2 separate regions of the Homo sapiens genome follow, and region 1 is linked to region 2. Evidence: fine-mapped QTL for protein levels in blood plasma. A gene starts in region 2. The other region holds a variant in brackets. All regions are shown on one strand. Distances are from middle to middle.

Region 1 (8,000 bases), 92 kb before region 2:
ACTAAACCAGTGGCTAGAGTAGCCAGAGCCACTTGTCACATACATGCCACTTAAAGAAATCATGCAAGTTCCAACAAACTGTTGGACCCTAAATAGTGGAACCGTTCTCAAAAGTTGGTTATTAGCAATTTTACAAATAGCTCTCAAAACATGCTGGCCCATGACTCAATGATAAGGAAACACCCTAGAATAGTCTGCAGTGTTATACTAATATTGTGCATGATTGGTTTGCTGCTGTAGGTTAAGAAACCTAAAGAAAAGTTGATATTGTCATTCAGATTCAAGAAATACAGAGAACACCACAAAGATACTCCTCAAGAAGAGCAACCCCAAGACACATAATTGTCAGATTTACCAGGTTGAAATGAAGGAAAAAGTGTTAAGGGCAGCCAGAGAGAAATGTCGAGTTACTCACAAAGGGAAGCCCATCAGACTAATAGCAGATCTCTTGGCAGAAACCCTACAAGCCAGAAGAGAGGGGGGGACCAATATTCAACATTCTTAAAGAAAAGAATTTTCAACTTAGAATTTCATATCCACCCAAACTAAGCTTCATAAGTGAAAGAGAAATAAAATCCTTTACAGACAAGCAAATGCTGAGAGATTTTGTCACCACCAGGCCTGCCTTACAAGAGCTCCTGAAGGAAGCACTAAACATGGAAAGAAACAACCAGTACCAGCCACTGCAAAAACATGCCAAATTGTAAAGACCATCGATGCTACGAAGAAACGGTATCAATTAATGGGCAAAATAACCAGCGAACATCATAATGACAGGATCAAATTCACACATGACAATATTAACCTTAAATGTAAATGGGCTAAATGCCCCAATTAAAAGGCACAGACTGGCCAATTGGATAAAGAGTCAAGACCCATCAGTGTGCTGTATTCAGGAGACCCATCTCACGTGCAGAGACATACATAGGCTCAAAATAAAGGGAGGGAGGAAGGTCTACCAAGCAAATGGAAGGCAAAAAAAAAAAAGCAGGGGTTGCAATCCTAGTATCTGATAAAACAGTCTTTGAACCAACAAAGATCAAAAGAAGGCCATTACATAATGGTAAAGGGATCAATTCAACAAGAAGAGCTAACTATCCTAAATATATATGCACCCAACACAGGAGCACCTGGATTCATAAAGCAAGTCCTTAGAGACCTACGATCAGGGAGCAGAAAACACTCCAAAGGCCAAGTCCCCAACAAGATGAAGCAAGAAAGCCACTGACCTGGTATGTCTGCTTCAGGACCACGGAGATGCTCAGGTGGCGGTCCCAGACCACGGAGAGGGCTTTGCCCAGCAGCAGAATGATGTACCGGCCAGACTCCACCACCTCAAAGTGAGTCTCATCCTTCATGGGCCTCTTCACATTCACCTGGAGGAAGACAAAGCAAGAAATCCAGGAGGATGAAGGGCAGGCTCGACAGCCAGATCCTCCCTCCACTCTACACCTGCCCATCTGTCTTCAGTGCCCACGAGTGCAGGCACTGCCACCCCTCCAGGACCCCACCTGCCACTGCACCCCTGCAGGGCCAGCCCCACGCCAGGACATGTCTGTGACCATCTCACCACCACCACTCTCCAGGCATCCATGACCAAGAGACGGTAACAGAGGTAGCAGCAAAATCATGATTATGAAATTAAAGTACTATGAAACCAATGAGCAGGTATTTTATTGACAATTAGTCATTAAATATAGTGGTCTCCTAGATAGGTTTTCAACATGGCAATGATTTTAAGCATCTCTAGTTGATTGTTTAAAAATCTATTCCTCTATAAAAATAAGCAGTAGACTCTCACCTTTCTTGTATCCCACCACCTCCCCCTCCCCAGAGCCACTGTCATCAGGAGACAGAGCTGAAGAAAAAGGAAACTGAGGTGCTCAGTGCTAGTGCTGGGAATCACACACTGCAGGTTCAAGAAGGGCTCTGACCTGAGCCTCTGACTTAGCCCAATCCCTGCCAGTGCTGTACCCTGGAGGACCATTTCAGCATGTGTGGCGGACTCTCCAATTCATCAGACTGAGGCTGAGGCTGAGAACTGCCATCATCCCTTTGCAGAGGTCCTCTCATTAGTAACATATCACATGCAGTGCAGAGCTAATCACATGTGCAAATCTATCCCTCACATGTCTGCACACCTCCTGTTCAGCATCATCACCGCCACTCTGCCCTAAATAGAGCTGTTCTTTGAAATGCAGTTGACACTGCTGACTCACAGTTAATACGTTATGCTTGCTAAGCAGTTTTCTTCCATAATGGTGAAGAATTCACCTCCCATCCCCTGCTGTCAATGGTGGGTATTTGGAAGAAGGCAGAGCTGCAGGCTGAGGCCATGGGAGAAAATGAAGATACCAGGACAAGTTTGTGCCCAGAGCCTGGGTCTCCACAGCACTCCACATAGTCAAAGCAGCGGATCCAAAACTGTGGCCTGGGGATGACCTGCAACTTTAAACACAGGTTCCTGGGCCCCACCCAGACCTACTGAGTCAGAATCTCAGCATGGAGTTCTAGGAGCCACATTTTAAACAAGATCTCCTAAGGGAGTCTTGTGTACACTTATGAGAACTACTTTTTAAGTTCTTAGTACACAGGGGACTGAATTAGTTTACTCCTCTTTTGAGCTCCTTTCTGGCCAGGCATGGTGGCTCATGCCTGTAATCTCAGCACTTTGGGAGGCCAAGGCAGGTAGATCACCTGGGGTCTGGAGTTCGAGACCAGCCTGGCCAACATGGCGAAATCCTATCTCTACTAAAAATACAAGAAATTAGCCGGGCACGGTGGTGTACACCTGTAGTCCCAGCTACTAAGGAGGCTGATGCAGGAGAATCGTTTGAACCCTAGAGGTGGAGGTTGCAGTGAGCAGAGAGATCACACCACTACACTCCAGCCTAGGCAAAAGAGCGAGACTCCATCTCAAAAAAATAAAGTATTTATCTGAAAAGAACAGAAAAACATATGAAACATATCCCATAACATCATCACTTCATACACACACACACACACAAAGAAACCCGGCTACCCTCCAGTCCCCACCCTACTCTAGAGGTGAGCACTGGTTCTTCCCACGTTTGTGCAGACACATGTGCACATCCTTCACACACACTCTGCACTGTCGCTAAAATGGGATTGTGTCATCCCTATTGTTCTGCCACTTGTTCTTCTCATAAAATAATACGTCACGGTCAGTTGCAATAGCTCTGCCTCATCCTCTTTAATGGCTGTGCGTTATTCCATTCACACGAGCTCTAAATGAATGCTTGGAAAATGTTCCTATTAAGTGGCAGAAGCACAAAGCGGGACATGAGGGTGGAGATGAGGCTGCACTTACCTCCCCGTCAAACAGCTCAATCTCTCCTCCCTCCACCAGGATGGTGACCCGTTTCTTGCATTTCACTGAGGGGTGGCTGCATCCCTTATTCCCCACTAGGATCCGAAAGGTCCCAGGGTTACTGCCGCAGTAATCCTGGGGAAAGAGGAGTGCCAGGAGAAGACCATTATCCCCACTGGCTCTCACCAGACCAGAAGATTGGCATCTCTTCATCACAGGCCTTTGAGTACGTGTCACAGGATCTTGCCACGTCCATGGCTGCGCATATGTGCCTCTGTGTGTGTCTGGGGGACGGGGGATATGCCCAGGTGAATGCCCTCAGGTGTGTCAACCTCGCCCACGACAGATGAGCCAGGTGCCTGCAGTGAGTGGGGTGGGGGTGGGGAAGGAGGGGGAGGGAAGGAAGGTGACATGTGGCCTGCTTCGATGGATGCATCAGGCTCAAAGGCCTTGCCTAGAGCCCATTAGAGTCCCACTGGAGCCTTGCCTAGAGTCCCACCCAGGTAACTGGGACAGTTTGACCACAGGGCACTTTGTGGCTCTGAATTCTGGTTGAATCCCTCTGCACTGCTGGCCCAGAAATGGAACCAAAGATGGTTTGACACAGCTCCATGGGTCCTGAGCTACCAAGTCGAGATGAGTAGAGAGGATAAGGAGCTCTGGTCCTTGTTGGTCAATTGCATAGAAAATTAAGCAAAAGGGGACACATTCCTGGCAAATGCCTCCCCCATGGTGGCTATTATTGTGATGTGATGAAAAAGAAAGATAAAATGTTCAACTTAGAAAAACAGAGTGTGTCGCTTGAACCCGGGAGGCGGAGGCTGCAGTGAGCCGAGATC[G/A]CACCACTGCACTCCAGCCTGGTGACAGAGCGAGACTCCATCTCAAAAAAAAAAAAGAAAAGAAAAGAAAAAAGAGGCCGGGCATGGTGGCCCACGCCTGTAATCCCAGCACTTTGGGAGGCTGAGGCGGGCGGATCACGAGGTCAGGAGATCGAGACCAGCCTGGTTAACACGGTGAAACCCCGTCTCTACTAAAATACAAAAAATTAGCCGGGCGTGGTGGCGGGCGCCTGTAGTCCCAGCTACTAGGGAGGCCGAGGCAGGAGAATGGCATGAATCGAGGAGGCGGAGCTTGCAGTGAGCCGAGATCGCACCACTGCACTCCAGCCTGGGTGACAGAGCGAGACTCTGTCTCAAAAAAAAAAAGAAAAAATAAAAACAAGGTGTGAATCTTGATTCTGCCACTTATTGGTAACACTGAGCAAACCACTTACCTTTCTGACACACACACCCACACACACACATACACCCAAATACACACAGGCACATGCATACACTCAAACACACATATACATACATCTATGTACTCATACACACACTCACACACGTGCTCACACATACACAGATGCACACACATACACCCATGTACTCATACACACACACACGCATACACATACATACACACACGTAGCCATACACACACACGCGCTCACGCATACACACACATACACCCATGTACTCATACACAGTCACACACACGCACATGCATACACCCACACACACGCACATGCATACACCCACACAGACATGCTCATGCATACACACATGCACACATACATGCATACATATGTCCATACAACACACACAATCTGACCTCTAAGATTCCATTCAACTTAATGGAATTGTCAGGTTAAATGGCTTTGTGTTAGGTCGATGCATGGCGAAGGTTAAAAGAGGAAACAAGGGTGTAGGTGTTTTATTTGTCCTTATCTTCAGCTGAGATTTCTGAAAGAGGGAGTTAGGTCTTGATGATACTCCCCAAAGGAGGATGGCAGAAAGGGGAGGGGCCCCAGGACAATGCATCAGAAGACAACAGAACCAGCTGTAGGAAAGGAAAACAAGCCACACACAAGGGGCACCGTTTGGAGGGGGAGTCTTTAAAACTGGTCCACTTGGGAAAGCTGGCCTGGGCAGGGAAGGGCTGGGAGCAGCAGATGCTGACCAGCTGTCTGGTCCTTGCTGCACTGAATTAATTTTTTCCTGGATGTTCAGATTTGAAATGGGCTGGGCAGTTGTTCTGCAAAGCTGGTGTCGCCCTCTCTTTTGCTGCTGAGGCTGGGAAACTTCCATATAGAATCTCTGGGAAAGCTCTAAAGGGGCGCATATCCCCCCGGATCATAGGTTCCCTGCCTGGTCTGCATGCCCTGTGTCCCCAGCACACTGCCTGCCTCTCTGGGCCAGCCCGGGTGTGAGGTGGGGACTGAGGAGGCTGCTGTTGGCTCCGCCCCATGCCCAGCATGCTCTACACGAGTGGTCGGTCCACAGTCACCCACGCTGCCTGACTCACCAGCTCCTGCAACTCAGCCTCTGGGGCTGGGGCTCCTATGGGTTTGTGGTCTTCCATTCAGACCACACCAAGCTCCCGCCCCTCCTCCTCCTGGGAATGGAGACAGAGGGACCATATTTGTTCAAAGCTTCACAGAGTACAGTGCCTCAGCTCTGGTGAGAAAAGCACTCATACTTCCTTGCTTACACAGTTGATGTCAACCAGAAAGAGAAACTTACAAGAATCCACGCAGTGGGGAGTGGGAGGCAGAGGGGCTGCTGCCCACACTCACCGTGAGGATTCCTGGATCGCTCTCATCTGCTGGGCAGGATGACTTTCCTGTGTCCCATCCTCCCACTCCTCCCATTCTGAATTGTACCAAGTTAGACATTAAAATGGCGGAGAATTCCACAAAGCCATATCGTGGGAAGCAAACTCCAGGGGTCATTTCAACCATCCCCCTGTCCAGGGCCACTGCACAACACCTGCAGACTGTGCACTGCCCAGGGTGCTGGAAGGGAGGCTGAGCGGGACTGACTTCCCAGCCCAACCCACTCCCTAAGCTATGCACCCTGACTGAGGCTGTGTCTACCAGAAGGAACAGATGACTTTTTCTAATTCCACATCTGTGCTAATGTGGACTAGCAGTAGCCTTTCTCCCACACCAATCCTCAACAACAAACAAGCTTCTGTCTCGTTTTATAAGTCCCCAGGTGAGCAGAGGGAAAATGGACAACCACTTTGAGCTTCAAATCCCCTACCGCTTCAGGCACTTCTGTGAAGGACTGGGAAGTACTCCAGTAGAAACCAGACCCCAGAGTTGTTTCTGCAGACAGATCCACAGAACCCAACCTGAGGCCACACCTCCCACCCCTCCTAGAAAGAAACAGCACCCTCTCCCCATCTCCCCACCTCTCACCTGCACCAGAACGTACTGGCACTCCCCGGGGAACAGGTATTTGAGCCCGTCGAAGGTGAGGTAGTGGGCCATGCCGATCGTGGAGCACGTGGCATCACACACATGGTCTGTGCAGTTCCACTTCCGGTCCTGACAGACACTAGGAGCAGTCATGGCAGAGATGACAAGTTGGGCACCTTGGGTTTGAGGGGCCCATCTGGGCCATGGAGGCAATGAAGGAACACAGAATACTCTGGGTGCCTCCCAACCCTCCAGGAAGCCCAAGGAAGTTGAGGACCTGTAGCGTGGAGTGTGGACTTCATAGGCCCAGTATGGTGCCCAGCAGGAGACAGGGAAGCCTAGTGGCTGTCCCTAAAAGGGGGAAACTGAGGCAAAGAAGGGAAGGGGTTGTCCAAAGTGAGCCAGGCAGCCAGGGAGGAGGCCCGGATGCTCTTTAGGCCTCCTGTTATGAATTCGCTCAGCCTCACCCTGAAAGCCACATCTACCTGAGATTGGCCACAGGGTGTCTGTAAAACAGACACACTGATGTTGAAAGCCTGAGGCTAATGGGAAAAACAAGACAGAACAGTGGGAAAGCCCAGAGTATAGAAAAGAGTGATGAAGTACGCACTTCTGCCAGGAGCAGTCCTGTGTGCATAGCTACACGTTAAGATGTATGTAGCTACATGTTAAAATCTATAGTGATCTGCCCACTGCCACGTGTCCCTCCCTGCCACCACCCGTAACCAGAGCTGACATCAAGAAGCCCACTTGTGCGTCAGAGGTGGTAAGCTCAGACCTCAAGCCCAAGAGACAGCCCTCTCTACCTCTGTCCAGTAGGCCTCTTTCCAAGGCTGTGCACAGCCACCAAGTCAAAGGCAGGGTGAATGAGCAGGGTGAGGGGTTACGTGCAGGATGGCCAAGGAAAAGGGAGAAGGCAACCAGCCACCCTCACCTCAAACCACGCCACTGCAAGCACACTCACGAAGTGCTCATGGGCAGTGTAAGGCCTGCAACGAAAGGACCCTCCAGACCCCGTGCCCACTGGCAGCTTGGCCCAAATGCAATGACTGGTGGGGCGAGGTCCCTGTCTTCCCTGGGGCCCATCTCCCTGAACAGAAATACAAGCTGAGCATTCCTAATCCAAAACTCTGAAGTCCAAAATGTTCTGAAACCCAAAACTTTGAGCACCAACATGACACCACATGGGTGGCTGAGAGGGTGACACCTTTACTTTCTGATGGTTCAATGTACACAAAACTTTGTTTCATGCACAAACATTAAAAATACTAAATACACATTAAATACATATTTAAAATGTTGTATAAACTTACCCTCAGGCAACGTGTATAAGGTATATATGAACCATAAATAAATGTCATGTTTAGATTTAGGTCCCATCCCTAAGACACCTCATTATGTATATGCAAATATTTCAAAGTCCAA
Region 2 (2,366 bases):
CTTTGAACATGGACTTCTGGCCCCCGAAAAAACCCCTGGCCAGTGCCAGGCCCAAGGGTAACAATCGCTGTGAGCTGGGACCTGTGGGCACCTTTCCACAGACAGCAGTCCCAGGCCCAAGACAGGAGGAAAACGCTGCCTTCCCTCCAGGCCCGCTGGGCCTCACATCCCTGCCTCCTGAAGCAGCTGGGAGCTAACACACACCTCATTCCTTCCTGCCTCTGCATCCAAACTGGCGAGTAGGAACCGTCTTACACTTGTGTGCCCACCACAGCAGCCCAGACATAGAGAATGCTCAGGAACCACCAACTTGACGGTTTGCTTGTTGGCCCCTGACTCTGTACCACAAGTGCCTTCACAAGAGCAAAGGCTGTCTCCCTTGCCTCCAACCCCAGCACCTGGCAAGATGCTTAGCACCCAGGAGATGCCCAGCAAATGTTTGCTGAGTTCATCTGAAAAAATGGACAGGAGTCCAGCGGCCCTGGATGCAGGCAGACTTCCCCACTGTGTGACCCCCAAGAGAGGGACAATTCATCCTGGCTGGCAGAGCGTACCCCAAGTCACTTAGAGCCCCTGCTGTAGCCCCTCTCCTCGGGAAAAGTTGTTAAATGAAGTGCAGAATCTGCTGCCTGAGATTCACTGGGGGTGACTCCCTTCCTACCTAAGGTCCCATCCAGCCAAAGGTGAAATCAAGCCAATCTGTGATACATCTGTGGAAGGAACACTGAGATGTCAGATACTGCCAGGTCTCGGTCTCCAAGCAGGTGTCCCCTCCCAGTCCTAACACGCAGGTACATTCAGCTGCTCCCAGGTTCTCAGAGGTGAGGGCAAACTTCATTCCAACTCATTTGAGTGAAGTACTATCAAACAGTAAAACCCACTGCATGAAGAAAAGCAGCCCCAGGACCCTCAGAGGCAAGTGGAGGAGGGAGTATTAGGATCATCCCTGGCTGAATTGAATTGCCCCTCCAAACAAAGCCCTTCTAGTCCAGCGACAGAGAACTCCAGCTCCCCAGGAGCAGGGATCAGTCAGTCCTGCATCTTCCTCCCACAACTGAGCCAGCTCTCCTTCCAAAGGCCATACCTTCCCCTGCAAATGAGGGCTGCGGCTATCTCCAAGGTCCCTGGGAAACTCAGCTGCTGGACAATGGTGCCGCCCACCCTAGGCCATGCTCTCAGCTGCTGCAAAGGCTCAATCAGGTCTGCTACAGCTCCGGACTGTCTTGCTGTTATGTAGCCCAGGGGCTGTGGAGTCCCCACTGCTGGGGGAGATAAAGCCCAAGCTGTGACATCCACCAACCACCCTCCCTTTCCCACCACAATAGCTGTGAGCTGCCACAACAGGGGATTGGCCTCCTTTTAATTACCAAAAGGAAACAATGAAAGGAAATGGTATTAGAAGTACCTCCAAGCTGATAAAGCTTTGTAGAGTTTGGAGGGAGACCTCCTGGCAGCTGCCTTAATTAACTGCCTTGCCCTCCCCAAACACCCCCTATCCCTACACCCCCACACTTGATCCCTGGTCTTCCTAGAGTGCCCCACCTGTGTGGGATAACCAGGAATGCTGGTTGTTTCAGGGCAAGCTGATACAGGCCAGGGGGAATCACAGTAGAACAACACAGCTTCCTGATCCAGCTTCCAGGGCTGGACTCCAGGGAAGTTGAGAAAAACACCTCAACCTGAGCCAATTTTGCTGCTGTGTTTGGAGGAAGGGGAGTACTAACACTTCCTATGCACCCCAGGTATGAAGGATCCGGTCCTGGCCCTGACAAAAACAGTCCATTTGGATCCTGGCCAGGGTTGAATGGATCGGCTAAAGATGAAGGTCTTGGCCACAAGCCTAAGCCTTTGTAAAATGGTGAAGGTGGGGAGTGATGGTTTGAGTCTAATACTTCTACTGTTGCTACATTCTAATAATTCTAATTCTCAAGGACATTTCCACCCACTTCTGGTACCCTGATCTTACACACACACACACACACACACACACACACACACACACACAATTCTTCTTCCCAGCCTCCCATTCCCAAAAGCCTAATTCTCAACACCATCTGCTAAACTAATTCCTACTAAAATAAGTAACTGATGCAATGGGCAGCGGTGGGGGGAAGATGACTCTCGTGCTGGGATTCCAGGCACTGAGACAAGCACCCTGAGGCATGTCTGGGTATGGAAGACCTCCTCACTGCTTCTCCATGATACCTCCTGCCCTAAGACTTTGAGAAACCACTAGGTTCCAACCTCCTCCCTTCCCACATACCTCGCACTCTGCTACTCCCTTTACCGCCCCAGGAGAGGAAGATGCACACTCCCAAGGAAGAAAAATGGCACCAGAGGCAGAATCAGCATGAGACAGTAGAAAA

Which allele goes with the higher level. Alleles are on the strand shown, and positions count from the first base shown. The strength of an association depends on the size of the effect and on how common the allele is.
In carriers of allele A in region 1, the plasma level of the protein whose gene starts at base 1,334 in region 2 tends to be higher than with G alone (weak association).

What was found. PIP is the chance, under the fine-mapping model, that this variant and not a neighbour inherited with it causes the effect. The UK Biobank Pharma Proteomics Project read protein levels with antibody pairs (Olink). The fine-mapping took linkage between variants from a reference panel, not from the people measured, so its PIPs are less certain.
Region 1: its variant is fine-mapped to the plasma level of the VWF protein (UK Biobank, PIP above 0.99).

Annotation. Positions count from the first base shown.
Region 1 is chr12:6,028,113-6,036,112 of GRCh38, forward strand. It overlaps VWF (von Willebrand factor), which reads right to left. Exons shown (of 52, transcript NM_000552.5): 20 at 6,576-6,714; 21 at 3,332-3,466; 22 at 1,230-1,376. Among named protein-coding and RNA genes, the nearest start is that of SNORA120, 8.1 kb to the right of the region's middle. The variant G/A (reference allele first, on the strand shown) is at 4,171.
Region 2 is chr12:6,123,337-6,125,702 of GRCh38, forward strand. It overlaps VWF (von Willebrand factor), which reads right to left and starts at 1,334. Exons shown (of 52, transcript NM_000552.5): 1 at 1,085-1,334.